3 separate regions of the Homo sapiens genome follow, and regions 1 and 3 are each linked to region 2. Evidence: fine-mapped QTL for protein levels in blood plasma. A gene starts in region 2. Each other region holds a variant in brackets. All regions are shown on one strand. Distances are from middle to middle. Region 1 overlaps CHUK (component of inhibitor of nuclear factor kappa B kinase complex). Region 2 holds the start of DNMBP (dynamin binding protein). Region 3 overlaps ENTPD7 (ectonucleoside triphosphate diphosphohydrolase 7).

What was found. PIP is the chance, under the fine-mapping model, that this variant and not a neighbour inherited with it causes the effect. Protein levels are from antibody-based Olink assays in UK Biobank. Linkage for the fine-mapping came from a reference panel and not from the study's own genotypes, which makes the PIPs less certain.
Region 1: its variant is fine-mapped to the plasma level of the DNMBP protein (UK Biobank, PIP above 0.99).
Region 3: its variant is fine-mapped to the plasma level of the DNMBP protein (UK Biobank, PIP above 0.99).

The regions. Positions count from the first base shown.
Region 1 is chr10:100,220,905-100,226,091 of GRCh38, reverse strand. It overlaps CHUK (component of inhibitor of nuclear factor kappa B kinase complex), which reads left to right. Exons shown (of 21, transcript NM_001278.5): 2 at 75-169; 3 at 3,112-3,226; 4 at 3,911-3,980. Among named protein-coding and RNA genes, the nearest start is that of CHUK, 6.1 kb to the left of the region's middle. The variant A/C (reference allele first, on the strand shown) is at 4,606.
Region 2 is chr10:100,007,550-100,012,779 of GRCh38, reverse strand. DNMBP (dynamin binding protein) reads left to right here and starts at 2,833. Exons shown (of 17, transcript NM_015221.4): 1 at 2,833-2,942. RefSeq lists a silencer at 2,541-3,060.
Region 3 is chr10:99,689,853-99,695,082 of GRCh38, reverse strand. It overlaps ENTPD7 (ectonucleoside triphosphate diphosphohydrolase 7), which reads right to left. Exons shown (of 13, transcript NM_020354.5): 8 at 3,565-3,698. It also overlaps a transcript of COX15 not described here. Among named protein-coding and RNA genes, the nearest start is that of ENTPD7, 33 kb to the right of the region's middle. The variant G/A (reference allele first, on the strand shown) is at 2,129.

The sequences.
Region 1 (5,187 bases), 210 kb before region 2:
GTTATTTCTTTGGTAGCAAATAAATCTTCACAAGAACCTAATTTTTTTTTTCTGTTGATTTTCTATTTTGGCAGGAACTTGATCTCAAAATAGCAATTAAGTCTTGTCGCCTAGAGCTAAGTACCAAAAACAGAGAACGATGGTGCCATGAAATCCAGATTATGAAGAAGTAAGTGTATTCCTTGACTTACATTTCCCTGGTTCTACAGCCCAACCAGATGTCATCATGGGGAAAGAGGCCAGGAATCCACTCTTCTCAGGATCTTTTTGGGAACATATATTTTTTTCTCTCATTAAATATATTCTATTTCAAATAATAATATCACATTAAGATTAAGAAGGTTTAGTTAAAATCAGCTAGGACACTTACACACTGTTGGTGGGAATGTAAAATTGTGCAACTGTTACGGAAAACAGTACGGTGATTCCTAAAAAATTAAAAATAGAATTACCATATGATCCAGCAATTCCATTTCTGGGTATATACAAAAATGAATTGAAAGCAGGGACTTAAAGAGTAATTTGTACACTCATATTCATAACATTATTATTCACAATAGCTGAAAGGTAAAAGCAACCCAGTATCTACCAGCAGAGACATGTATAAACAAAATGTGGTATATTCATGAAACGGAATATCATGCAGCCTTAAAAAGGAATGAAACTCTGACACATGCCACAGCATGGATGAATCTTGTGGACATTATGCTAAATGAAATAAGCCAGTCACAAAAAGACAAATACTGTGTCATTCCACTTATGTGTGGTACCTAGAGTAGTCAAACTCACAGTGAAAGAAAGTAGAATGGTGTTTGCCAGAGGGTGAAGGGACCAGCAAATAGAGAATAATTTTTAATAGGTGCGGAGTTTCAGCTTTGCAGAATTAAACAGTTTTGTGCAGTATAGTGATAGTAGCAAAACATTGTGAAAGTATTTGATGCCAGGCTGGGCATGTTGGCTCACACTGTAATTCCAACACTTTGAGAGGCTGAGGTGGGTGGATTGCTTGAGCTCAGGAGTTCGAGACCAGCCTGGGCAACATGGCAAAACCCCATCTCTACAAAAAATATAAAAACTAGCTATGTGTGGTGGTGCATGCCCGTAGTCCCAGTTACTTGGGAGGCTGAGGTGGGAAGATTGCTTGAGCCCAGGAGGTCAAGGCTACAGTGAGCTGAGATCATACCACTGTACTCCAGCCTGGGTGACAAGAGCAAGACCCTGTCTGAAAAAAAAGGAAAGCATCTTGATGCCACTAAACTGTACACTTAAAAATGGTTAAGGTGGTAAATTTTATGCTATGTGTGTTTTACCACAATCAAAAAACTATTTCATTTCAGTTAACAAAAGTCAGCTAGGGCCGGGCGTGGTGGCTCACACCTATAATCCCAGCACTTTGGGAGGCCAAGGCGGATGGATTACCTGAGGTCAGGAGTTTGAGACCAGCCCGGTCAACATGGCAAAACCCCATCTCTACTAAAAATACAAAAATTAGCCAGGTGTGGTGGCGGGTGCCTGTAATCCCAGCTACTTGGGAGGCCGAGGGAGGAGAATTGCTTGAACCCGGGAGGCGGAGGTTGCGGTAAGCTGAGATCATACCACTGCACTCCAGCCTGGGCGACTCCGTCTCTAAATAAATAAATAAATAATAAAAAATAAATTACCCCAACATTTAGTGGCTTAAAATAGCAAACATTTAGTATCTTATAGTTTCTGTGACTTAGGAATTTGGGAGTGGCTTAGCTGGGTGATTCTAGCTTAGAGTCTTTCCTGAGACATCTCAGGATATTGGTCGGAGCTGCAGTAATCCAAAGGCTTGACTGGGGCTGGAGTATCTGCTTCCATGCTCACTTATATGAATGTTGGCCAAAAGCATCAGTTCTTCGCCATGTGGGCCTCTTCATGGGGAAGCTTGAATGTTTTCATGACATGGAAGCTAGCTTTCCCCAGAAAGATCTTTTCCTCAGAAAGAGTGAGTGATCTGAGAGAGAGAGAGAGAGAGAGAGAGTGAACGAGCGAGCAAGATGAAAACCGACGTATCTTTTATGATCTTTACTTGGAAGTGAGACTCCATCCTTTTCCACCACATTCTGTTTGTTACAGTGAGTCACTAAGTACAGCCTACATTCAAGGGGAGGAGAGTTAAGCTCTTAAAAAGAGAAGTAGACATATTTTAAAACTTCCACAGGTAGTGTGCTAAGTACTTTACAGATCATTCTTCCAGTTATCACAGCAATCTTATATTTAGGTATTATTTTGCAAATGAGGAAGTTGAAGCTTATAGAATCACATAGCTGGTGGTTGGTAAAGTGTGGATTTGAAATAAATACTTTCTGACTCTAATATCTGTGCTTAATTCCATTTTGATTCTCAAACTTGGTTATGTGGCAGAATCACCAGGAAAGCTTAATAGTATAAATTATCAGGTCCTACATGTACATGGAAATTCTGTTTGCTTCTTTTTCTTTTTTTCTTTTTTTTTTTAAAAGAGATGTGGTCTTGCTATGTTACCCAGGCTTGACTTGAACTCCTGGGCTCAAGCAGTCCTCCCACCTCAGCCTCTGGAGTAGCTGGGACTATAGGCATGCGCCACCACACCCGGCTAATTTTTAATTTTTTGTAGAGATGAGGTCTCACTGTGTTACCCATGCTGATCTCGAACTCCTGGCCTCAAGCAATCCTCCCACCTCAGCCTCCCAAATTGTTGGGATTACAGTTACAACTACACCCAGCCTAGAACGCCAGATTTGACTTACTCACTGTGTGATCTTGTTACTTAGCCAATTTGTGCTTCAATTTTCTCCTGTGTGGTGAAAGTATTAATAAATCTACCTATAATAGGATTATTGTGACAAGTAACTGAGTTAATATATTTAAAATGTTTACTGCTTGGCACTTAGAAATGTAATAGTAGTAATAGTGATGGTATTTTTATGTGTGTTTTCTTTTAAAAAATTACTAATTTTTAATTATACAAATCAGAAATTAGAATATTATAAATAATACTGATCTTTCCCCCTCTGTTCATCCACCCACAATTAAGTAGCATTTCAAATCCAGTCCCTTTTTATTGGAAATAATTTTTTTTATTGTAATGTTTTTCTTTCTTATTAGGTTGAACCATGCCAATGTTGTAAAGGCCTGTGATGTTCCTGAAGAATTGAATATTTTGATTCATGATGTGCCTCTTCTAGCAATGGAATACTGTTCTGGAGGAGATCTCCGAAAGGTAGTGTGGATGTTTTGAGATGAGAGAGAGTAAATCACAAACTTTAGCAATGTTTGAATCATGTTAAATATAATAAACTAGAATAAGAATCGGAAAAACTATGGTCTGCTTCCTGTTTTGTAAATAAAGTTTTATTGGAACACAGCCACATTCATTTCTTTACACATTGTCTATGGCTGCTTTCTTATGGCTGCAGAAGTGAGTAGTTTTAACAGAGACTATGTGACTTGCAAAACCTAAAGTATTTACCATATGGTTCCTTACAGAAAATGTTGACTCCTGATTTAGAAAATGCATTTTTGTTGTTGCTGTTTGATGGGACTATAGCAATGGTGTTAGATGAAAATTTCAGTGGTTAAGGTGCTTATAAAAAGTTGTTTTCTGTATTGCAATCTTTTTTTTCTACCTAATTTTAAATGTGCCCATATGACCATTTTTATATATATCCATGAGATTTGTCAGCCTTTTCCAGTTTCAAATGCTTTTTGCCTCTTTTTACTTTTATGAGCCTTATCATGAAATTTACATGCCCTCAGTATGGATTTGGTAATTTTATTCCCTTGTATTTTATTATGACTTATTTTCTCATTTGAATATTCTTTTAGAGTATAGTAATTAATGTGTGGTCACTATTGCAGCCCAGCAATTTGCAGAACAGATTTTTAGATTTCTTTCTTTTTTTAGCTGCTCAACAAACCAGAAAATTGTTGTGGACTTAAAGAAAGCCAGATACTTTCTTTACTAAGTGATATAGGTACGTATCAGTATTAAAATACCATTGTAATGTAATGTCCCTTTGGCCCATAAAAGATCTTTTTGGGAATTCAGGAGAATTGTTGATACACTATACAAAGTCTATAGAATTTCAACATCTATAAGAAGTTATAAAAATCTATTACTATTGATGCTAAATTAAAACTAGGATATTTTGGCTAGGTGCGGTGGCTCACGCCTGTAATCCCAGCACTTTGGGAGGCCAAGGTAGGCGGATCACAAGGTCAGGAGTTCAAGACCAGCCTGGCCAACATAGTGAAACCCCATCTCTACTAAAAATACAAAAATTAGCTGGGCACAATGCCGCATGCCTGTAGTCCCAGCTACTCGGGAGGCTGAGGCAGGAGAATCGCTTGAACCCAGGAGATAGAGGTTGCAGTGAGCCGAGATTGCACCACTGCACTCCAGCTTGGACAACAGAGTGAGACTTTGTCACACACACACAAAAAGAAACTAGGATATTTTATTATTTATTTGTGGCTAAGAGTCCTTTTTTTGTCTAATAGATGTTCCAATAGCTGACAAAAAAATCATGTGAAATGACCTTACTCAATTTCTCTCCCCCCCTACCATTGACATAGTAATTTTGTTTACAGTGGAATTAC[A/C]TCTCCTTGAGGGATGGGTCCTCAAGTCAACTCTTTTTTGTTTGTTTGTTTTGAGACGGAGTCTAGCTCTGTTGCCCAGGCTGGAGTGCAGTGGTGCGATCTCAGCTTACTGTAACCTCTGCCTCCCAGGTTCAAGCGATTCTCCTGCCTCAGCCTCCCGAGTAGCTGGGATTACAGGTGCCCGCCATCACACCTGGCTAATTTTTGTATTTTTAACAGAGACGGGGTTTCACTGTGTTGGCCAGGCTGGTCTCAAACTCCTGACCTCGTGATCTGCCCGCCTCGGCCTCCCAAAGTGCTGGGATTACAAGCGTGAGCCACCGCACCCAGCCAAGTCAACTCTTCAGGGTGAAAAATCTCTGCTTAATCAGAATGACTCCAGAAAAATTCCTAAAATAACCAGTACCTAACCTTTTGGAGGAACCTCAAAAACCAAAAATTTGTTTCCCCATAGATTTTGGTTTTGCCTCTTTTCCAAGGTCATGAGGGCTAAAGTCCAATTGAAATGAGTGATTTAGGTGGGAGAAAGAGGCTTATAAGAGTTTCAGGGATTTTCCCAATTGCTTGTTGCATTTCTATTTG
Region 2 (5,230 bases):
TAGCTGGACGTGGTGGTGCATGCTTGTAATTTCAGCTACTAGGGAGGCTGAGGCACGAGAATCGCTTCAACTCGGGAGGTGGAGGTTGCAGTGAGCTGAGATTGCACCCCTGCACTCCAGCCTGGGCGGTAGACTAAGACTCCGTCTCAAAAAAAAAAAAAAAAAAAAAAATTACAGTTTAGGGGTCATGCAGCCTCTGACTCCAAGAGCCTGAACCTCCCAAATTGCTCCTGGAATAACATCACTATTTCAAAACCTAAGATCAGTATTTGAGATATTTTGCAGACCCTGCAGTTGATGGATCTGCTGACACCATCCAGACCGGTAATCTGGCTCAACCAGTTCTGCATTGCACCCAGGAGCAGAAAACAGCAAGAAAACCTCATTTTGACCCCCTATGTTTCCATCTCCAACCTGACCAATCAGCACTCCCCACTTCTCAAGACCCCACCAGCCAAATTATCTTTAAAAACTCCACAAGGTCAGGAGATGGAGACAATCCTGGCTAACACGGTGATAGTCCGTTTCTACTACAAAAATACAAAAAAAAAATTAGCCAGGCGTGGTGGCGGGCGCCTGCAGTACCAGCTACTCGGGAGGCTGAGGCAGGAGAATGGCGGGAACCCAGAAGGCGGAGCTTGCAATGAGCCGAGATCACGCCGCTGCACTCAAGCCTGGGAGACGGAGCGAGACTCCGTCTCAAAAAAACAAACAAACAAAAAACTCCGATCCCCAGGCTGGGCGCAGTGGTTCATGCCTGTAATCCCAGTACTTTGGGAGGCCGAGGAGGGTGGATCACCTGAGGTCAGGAGTTCAAGCCCAGCCTGACCAACGTGGCGAAAAAAATAAATAAAACGAAATGCTTGATTTTTCATCTGAATTTCATATGGCATACTTGACTCCAAACAACTTTAGAAAGCTACATCCACAGAAAACAAAATTGTAGGAAACTGAATAATAAGTTATTTTTATTTTGGCTAATAACATTATCCAAAAATAAAGACAATAGATTTGCAATGTTAATTACTTTCTTGAGGAAAGAAAAGTCACTTGTTTTAAAATATTTATTTATTTATTTATTTATTTATTTATTTGAGACGGAGTCTCGCTGTGTCACCACGCTGGAGTGCAGTGGCGCGATCTCAGCTCACTGCAACCTCTACCTCCCGGGTTCAAGCGATTCTCCTGCCTCAGCCTCCCGAGTAGCTGGGACTACAGGCACCCACCACCATGACCAGCTAATTTTTTATTTTTAGTAGAGACAGGGTTTCACCATGTTGACCAGGATGGTCTCGTTCTCTTGACCTCGTGATCCGCCGAAAAGTCACAGTTTTACAGGCAAATGAAGCATTGCTAAGAATTTTAAAGACTCTCCGAACGTTGATATTTTACTACAAAATGTTCTCTTTACAGTGTTAACATGCTTCAAAAAGCAAAGGAAAAAAAAACAGTATGGTGGCTTCTCAAAAAATTAAACACAGAATTACCACATGATCCAGCAATTCTTCTGGATATATACCCAAAAGAATTGAAAGTAGGGACTCAGATATTTGTACACCCATGTTCATTGCAGCATTATTCACCATAGCCTAAAGGTACAAACAACCCAAATGTCCACAGAAAGATGGGATAAACCAAAGATGTTATATACGTACAATTGAGTATTATTCAGCCTTCAAAAGGAAGGATATTCTAACGCATGCTACAACATGGGTGAGCCTTGAAGACATTATGCTAGGTGAAAGAAGCCACTCACAAAAGGACAATATTGTATGATCCCACTTATATGAGGTATCCAGAGTAATCATAGAGACAGAAAGTAGAATGATGGTTACCAGGGGCTGGAGAATGAGGAGTTAGTGTTTAATGGGTACAGTTTCAGTTTGGGAAGATGAAAAAGTTCTGGAGCTGGATGGTGGTGATGGTTGCAGAACAATGTCAATGTACTTAATGCCACTGAACTGTACACTTAAAAAGGATTAAAATGGTAAATTTCATGTGATATATATTTAACCACAAGTTTTTAAAAAGCAAAGGGAAGGAGAAACATATACAGCATGGGATGAGATTTGTGAAATATTTATTTTTGTTGTGCATGCACAGTCATAGACTCGCCGCCTTCTTCAGAATCCTCTAGGTAGATTCCAGAAACGTGAGGCGCAGCAATTCCAGCAACATAGCCAAGCTGTGTAACTTCGTGGTCTTTAAACAAACAACGGGAATACTGCGGGGATTCAGAAACTGAGTCGGAGGAGGAGTTCTGACAGCCCTGCCCAGTTCTTGCTTCTGTCATTTCTTGCTCTCAAATTCTCAAAGATGTCCTGAGAGACTTTCCTCAGAAAAAAATGGGACAGATAGAGGCGAACCCCAGCGAGTATTGTGTGGCATAATAAGGGAAACTGCCTCGGGGTAGCAAAGAGGACAGCATCACACGCAGACAGGAATCGACTTGGACTTCTCTGAATGGAATTTTGACTTTTTTCTAGGTTGGAGGGTGGTGTCGGGAGTGGGGGAACAGCAAGAGTGGAGGAACTTGTCCGCAGCCGGGGCTGCACGTAGGACTGCGTGAGGCCGAGGCCCGACGAGCCGTGTCGGCGCGCTGCGGCGGGGGCGGGCCCCCGTGCCTCAGTTTCCCCGGTGGCCGTTCTGGGAGCGACGCCCCTCTGACGTCGCGAGGCGAGCAGGGCCGGGCCGGCCGCCAGGGGGCGCGAGCGCGGGGCGGGCGCCGGAGAGGTGGGCGCGCGGGCAGCGGAGCTTGGCGCCCCCGGGGCCGCGCGGACCGCGCCGGCAGAGGCGGAAGCCTGAGCGGGAGGCGGGGCGGCGCGCTGACTCACACGGGATCGACCCGCCCGCCGCTTCCAGGGGCGGAGGTGACAGCGGGCTGGGGACTGGCGGCTGCAACTGCCTGCCGCGCCGAGGGACCGCCGGGCGGCGGAAAGCAGGTCAGAGGCCGGGCCAGGCCGGAGCCGGGCGGGGGCCGGGCGGGGAGCGGGGGTCGCGGTCCGGGGCCGCGGGCGGAGGGGACCCGCACCCCGAGAGACGCGCCGCGCCGCGCCGCGCGGCTAGGCCTGTATCGGCCCTTTCCCAGCGGCGGCGCTGTGCTGCGCTCTGTGGGCCAGGAGCCCGCGAGGGACAGTGGGGCGCAGCGGGCCCCCTCGCACTCCTGTAGTCCCCGGGAGTTGGAGGGGTGGTCAGAGCAATGCGAACGTGGGCTTTTCAAGCGGTGTCAAGCCCAGGGCTCTTTCTCTGCACCGCCCTGCCACTCCGGCAATGAGGCGGAATTTTGAGAGCTGGAAAAAGAATTCTGCGTTAGTCCACCCCGCTGATTTTACAGATGTTCGGAGCCTTACGGCATAGGAGGCCGTGATTCTGTGTCAGGGAGACAGGGACAGATGGCTTCCGAAGCAAGGGTTAGACCTGTTCAGCTGGAGATGCAGCTTTGGTCATGGTGGAGTTTTGCAGAAACCCGCGGACACCCGCGTTCCTGCTGCAGGCACAGATGTCCACCGGGCATCTGTGTCTCAAAGGGTGGTGATGCTGTCACTTTAGTAAAGGAATATTGAGGTTACCAAACAGGCCGGGGCCTGATGCAGATGAGGAGTATAGACTTAAATTTTAAGTGCAAAAACAACTTTAAATGCAGTCTCATTATTACTGCCTGTCTCATTTGTACTGTAATGAAGGGTGAATATTTTTGGCACTCACTTATTCTGGAATATGGGTAACTTGCCTTTAGGTCTGTTTTATAGTAATTCTTTTACACAAACATGAAGATCTTGTATTAAAACACTTTCATAACTAATGATGCTGTAGTATGTGGCAGGCGAGTGGTAACGCTAATATTTAGGGTTTGAGCATAGTCTAGCTCTGCTTGTTTACATAGCTGAGTTAAACGGATGAGCAGGACTGATTAATCTGTAGTAGTTTTTGCAAGACTGAAGTACCTGACAGCATTCGGGGATCATTTCTCAGTTGGTGTTCCGTTTATTACTTTCACAGCATGAATACCGACACGGTGATCAGCAAGTTAGTTTATCCTCTACCCATTTTTCTCTAAAATATTGAATTAAAGGATCTCTAAGGTCCTCTTCTGTCTCGAGTTCTCCGATTTTACATGTTAACTTGAAACACGTCACTCATTGTGATAATAAAAATGTTTTAAGAAGAAAAGATTTTTAGAATTCTGCATAATGGGGCATAGCGAATCTTCAAATTCATTATTCTCAGCTCTCTCAGTCACTTTATCAGGGTTGGGCTAAAATAAGTGAAAAGTGACTTTTCAAATTGCAGATACTTACGTGTTAAATTCACTTAAATTCAGAGGCTGCAATGGAGTGATTTCTGGAGGGTGGAGAGTAGCTCAAGTCTGGCTTGGGAACGGGGTTCGTGCAGTGCACTGATAACTTTTGCAATAAGCCAAGAACAGTCTGACTCAGAGAATGTGATAAATTGACTTTTATACAGTGTTCATATTGTGTATTTTTTGGCTGAGATAATAATAATCTTCATAAACGATCTGTTTAAATATGCACCAGTTATTTATTTGTCTTGCAGCCCCAAGGCAGGGCATTTCCCTCAACGTTCCATCAATCTCTTCCTCTTTTCTGGCTCCTGACTTCAGGTGATCCGCCTGCCTCAGCCTCCCAAAATGCTGGGATTACAGGCGTGAGCCACCGAGCCTGGCTTTTGGCTTATTTTCTAGGTTTAGTATTCTGTTGTTTCTAGAGTCAGCTAATGGATTACCTACAACATGGTATTATTACGAGATTATCTCCTGTGAAATTCTCGAATGTGCTTGATCATCTGCCAAAGCATCCTTAGAATTCATTCAGAATACTTCTGGAAAGTTTTGCAACACCAATTCAATTAATATGAAATAGTTTCTTATTATACACACTCTGGAAAACATCTGAATAAGCTAATTTTCAAGATTGGTTAACTTAGTCTTGTTGGTCAGGAGTTAATTATGAGTTATTAGTTTCTTGCCTGGAAAGGCAGAAAGTTCTTAAGTAGCAGCAGTAAAATGAGCTCTTTAATGAAAGAGCCGTTAAACCAAGATGTTAACTTTTAGTTGTGTTCTTTATCCTCCCTGCTATGAAAGGCAGCTGTGGGAGGTGAAATAGAGTAGCTAAAATGTATTATTTCATTTTTAGATTTCTAGATCTTTTCTTCTGACTGAAGGACGTGACCACCAAGAATTGAACCAGCACTTGAGGGCAGGCACATAGGG
Region 3 (5,230 bases), 320 kb after region 2:
TTCCACATTATCATGGCAAAGCCTCTCTTTTGCTTTATTTATTTATTCTCTTTTATCTTCATACTTAATCTCATTCCATTCTCTGCCATGGGCAACCATTCTAATGTGTTATGTATAATTTTTGTATATATGTATTATTATAAAATGAGGATTCTTGTTTTGAATGTATTTCTTTTTAATTTGTGAAAAATACCATTGTGCCCTGCAATTTCACTCCAAGGTACATACCAAGAGATCCAAAAACTGGGGTGGGCATGGTGGCTCATGCCTATAATCCCAGCACTTTGGGAGGCCAAGGAGGGTGGATCACTTGAGGCCAGGAGTTCGAGACCAGCCTGGCCAACATGGTGAAACTCCGTCTCTACTAAAAATACAAAAATTAGCCAGGCATGGTGGTGGGTGCCTGTAATCCCAGCTACTCAGGAGGCTGAGGCAGGAGAATCGCTTGAACCTGGGAGGCAGAGGTTGCAGTGAGCCGAGATCGTGCCATGGCACTCCAGCCTGAGTGACAAGAGTGAAACCCCATCTCAAAAAAAAAAAAAAACAAAAAAACTTATGTACATAGAAAAATGTGTATATGAATGTTCACAGCAGCACTGTGCATAATAGCCAAAAAGGGAAAACCACTGAAATGTTCATCAGCTGATAAATGGATAAACAAAATACAGCATGGTTGGTCATACAATGGAATGCTGTTTAGCCATTAAAAAGGAATGAAATACCCATACCACGAGATGGCTGAACCTTGAAAACATTTTGCTAAATAAAAGAAGCCAGACATAAAACACCACATATTGTATGATTTCATTTATACAAAATGTCCGGAATAGGCAAATCCACTGGAGAGAGAAAGTAGATGAATAGTTGTCAGGGGTAGGGAGAGGAGAGAATGAGGAGTGACTGCTAATGGGAAATGAGTGGGGAGTGAATATGGGGTTTCTTTTTGGGGCGATGAAATGTTCTGGAATTCAATAGTGGTGGCTGCACAACTTTGTGAATGTACATAACTTTGTGAGTTGTACAAAAAAATATATTAGGCATTCAGGATTATTTAAAATGTTTTAAATGCCATTGTCTCACAGTTTCTTTCATTTTTACCAAGCACTAAGATTCATCTTGAAGAGCCATTATATTGCTATGTGTAGTTACTATTTTTTTTTTTTTTGAGATGGGGTCTCACTCTGTCACCCAGGCTGGAATGCAGTGGTGCGATCTTGGCTCACTGCAACTTCTGCCTCCCAGGTTCAAGCGATTCTCCTGCCTCAGCCTCCTGAGTAGCAGGGTTAGAGGTGCCTGCCCACCCTGCCCAGCTAATTTTTGTATTTTTAGTAGAGACGGGGTTTCACCATGTTGGCCAGACTGGTCCTAAACTCCTGACCTCAGGTGATCCACCCGCCTTGGCTTCCCAAAGTGCTGGGATTACAGGCGTCAGCCACCGTGCCCGGCCTGCTATATGTAAATCTAATTTGTTGCTTGCAAGTATGCATTCCGTACCAGTGTTGCTTTCCATAACCATGTTCCTTTCTAAATCTGCACACACACAAAAGTCATTTCTTTAAGACTTGAAGCCCCAGTCCCGCTTGTCACCTATTTCTTAGTATCAGATCCATGCCTTCGTTTTACCTGTTAAATACATACTAACGAATATAGACTAAAAAGTATCACAACCTAGTTAGTCCCCCACATTTCCAACCCCAGCATGAAATTCTCTGCTGACTGCTAAACTCACATTTCCAACAGTCCTGTGGATATTCTGACATATATGTTCCTTGGGTATCTTAAACTCAATATATCCAAAATTGAAGTCATTAGTTTTACAACTTCTGAACTAGAAGACCAGATAGACGCTCTCATCCAGATCTCTCAGGACAATACTGTTTGCTTAATATCACCCCTGCCCTTACCCCTGTTGCTCTTCTCTCAGTTACTGGGTTCCTCAGTCTTCTGGTTATCTAGGATAGATCCTCAGCACTGCTGGCCATCCTCCCACCCTACTCACACTACCACAATCAATCGCTCAATTACATTGGGTTTTCACTCCAAACTATCCCCTGAAATCTGTCCCCTCCCTTTCATTTCCACTTACTTTGTCTAACTCAGCCCTTTATTACTTCTCACTCAAGGTTCC[G/A]TGACCTATATTCTTTCTCCTACTGACACAAAAATTTTTTCACTACAAAAAGATCAGATCACAGTCACACAACTGACATCATCACAAAATTCAGAGCTGAGAAGGACCTTCACAGTTTAATTATTTTATAAATGAAACTGAGGCCCATGTGACTGCCTTACTCAAAAACTTTTGGTGGTTTTCCACTATCTATGGAAATAAAAGCCAGTCCCCTTATGATAGCACTCAATACTGCTCATGATTTAGCTCCATCTTATCTTCCCAGTCTTAACTACTAGCACACCTGAAAATCCTATACTGCAAAAGGCTATTCGTCATTCCCTGGACATTCTGGCCTCTGTGCTGCTTTTTCTGTGCCTTTGTATATAGTGTTCCCTCCATGCAGGTGGCCTTCCCTCAGCCTCCACTCTGCAAAAAAAAAAAAGCCTACTCTCATCCAAGGCCCAGGTAAATACTTTACCTTCCATGAAGCAAGAATGGCTCCCATTCAACTTTGCAAGCTAAGTTGGCTGCCAGTCCCCATATTGCCACAGCTCTCTGTTTAAACCAGATGTTCTCAATGATGGGCAATTTCCACCCTGCCCCACACATCTGGTAATGTCTGGAGACACTTTTGATTGTCACAACTGGAAGGGGGAGGGTTGTTACTGACATCTGGTATAGGCAAGAGATATCATATGATGCATGGGATAACCCCTGATGACAAAGAATTATCTGACCCAAAATGTCAAGAGTGCCAACGATGAGAAGCCCTGGTTTAGATCAAGTTAAGCACTGCTACAGTCTCCCTGATATCACAAGCTGTCTCCACTGACAGATAAATTATAAGTTTTTAGGGACAGTGTAACTCACATGTCTATTCCTTGTACATAATATTGTCTATTCCTTGCACATAATGGGTGTACATAATAGGTGTACATAATGGCTGTACAAAAAGTGTCTGTGTAGGATGAAACTTCTCCCTCAAAATACATTCTTTACATTCTAGTGGGGTAAGGATTATTAGAAGGCCCAGAATGGAATCATCAGTAAGGGGAAAGGGAATAACATTTATTGAACAATAGATATGTATCAAATACTGTGCTCCAGAATGTAAATGCATTATCATGTTTATCCTCAGCAATGGCAGGAGATACCTAGTATAGTTATAATTGTTAAAATGTATTGAACACTTATGCTGGACAGTTTGCTAAATGCTTTACAAACATGGTATTATTTCATCCTCATAACTTTATGAGGTAGATACTATTATTATTCCTTTTTCACACAGGAGGAAGCTGAGGCTCAGAGAGGTAACCTACTCAAGATAACGCAAGCTAGCAAGTATCTGAACAAATATTTAGAGCCAGGTAGGTTGGTCTAAGTCCAAAGACAGTGTCCTTCCTTCTCAAATACTAGCATTCCTAGCAACTAAATTTCCCTAAAAGGTAAAGTACCTGCTTTGCAGGAAGGACAGAGGTTGAGGTAGGAACTTCATAAGCAATTTGGAGAGAGGCTCCTCCCATATCCAGTATCCCTACTGTCCTTCTCCGTCCTGCTGCCAATTCCTGGGTAGCCTCAGCATCTGATTCTGAAATAAATAAGAGAACAAAAAGGCCCTAGTAATTAAAAAATAAAATTAAGTCAAACCCCCAAAACAGCAATCCCTTGAAAATTTGAAAGCAGGCAGGTGCCATGGCTCACACCTGTAATCCCAAAACACTGGGAGGCCAAGGTGGGAGGATTATGTGAGCCGAGGAGTTCAAGACCAGCCTAGGCAACATAGTGAGACACTCTCATAAAAAAAAAAAATTTTTTTTAATTAGCTGGGCATGGTGGTGCACACCTGTAGTCCCAGCTACTCAGGAGGCTGAGGCCAGAGGATCATTTGTGCCCAAGAGTTTGAGGCTGCAGTGAGCTATTATCGCACCACTAAACTCTAGCCTCAGTGACAGAGAACCTGTCTCAAAATAAAAAAAAGAAAGCAAACAAGTATACTAACTGAATCAACTATATATTACACAAAGAATAATTCTTGTGAATTACTTAAACATGACATTTTGACTACGTATCCCTAGTAGGATATAGCCTAAGGACAAAAGAAACAAATATCTTAAGCTACATCGCAGTAGTCTTGTTAACAATATTGTTGGTTTTATTATTTAAAAATTATGAAGGGAGACTGAGGCAGGCAGATCACAAGGTCAGGAGTTCGAGACCAGCCTGACCAACATGGTGAAACCCTGTCTCTACTAAAACACAAAAATTAGCCGGGCATGGTGCTGCACACCTGTAATCCCAACTACTCAGGGGGCTGAGGCAGGAGAATCGCTTGAACCCGACAGGCGGAGGTTGTAGTGAGCCGAGATTGCACCACTGCACTCCAGCCTGGGTGACAGAGCAAGACTGTCTCAAAAAAAAAAAAAAAATTATGAAACATATTGTGGAATAAAACAAATAAATGTTTATGTCAATATCTTTAGGAACAAAGATTCAGCATAACAGAACAAAAAGGATATAGGTATAAAAATCAAATAAATTAATAGCACCCTATAATCTTACATATGAGTCAGAAATATGACTATGAACTCATTTATTTTTCTCTTTCTAAAAAATACATATTTCCTAGCTGTGTTCACTGAAAGGCCTAGAAGCAATGATATCCCAGGAGTAATGACCACCTGTGGTATCTGGACCAATAATCTCTAAATACCATCTTTTACTAAAAGAAACCAGGGCTCTTTTAAAAACAGGCCAATGCCAGGTCTAGGGTAGAAAGTATACAAGATGACCCTGGAATACATTGCTGTACCAGATAGCAAGGGGAATATAAAAGAGTATTGGGGTCATATTAAAAGGATACAGCAGCCAACCTAAAGATGCTCCTTAAAATACTAATAATGTGATGGGCTCTAATGCATCTAATATATTAAAATCCATGAGTTCATAATAATAATTAAAACTTTTTTTTCACTGGTTACCTTTGGAAGTTGCTAGACACCAACTCATTATTCAGAAATGTGATAAATAAAAAGAATCAAGGATTTATTCTGTCTTTCCCATAAGAACTATATGTCAGGGTAACCAAAGAGTTGATCAAGAAAAGTTCATTACATAAAAATT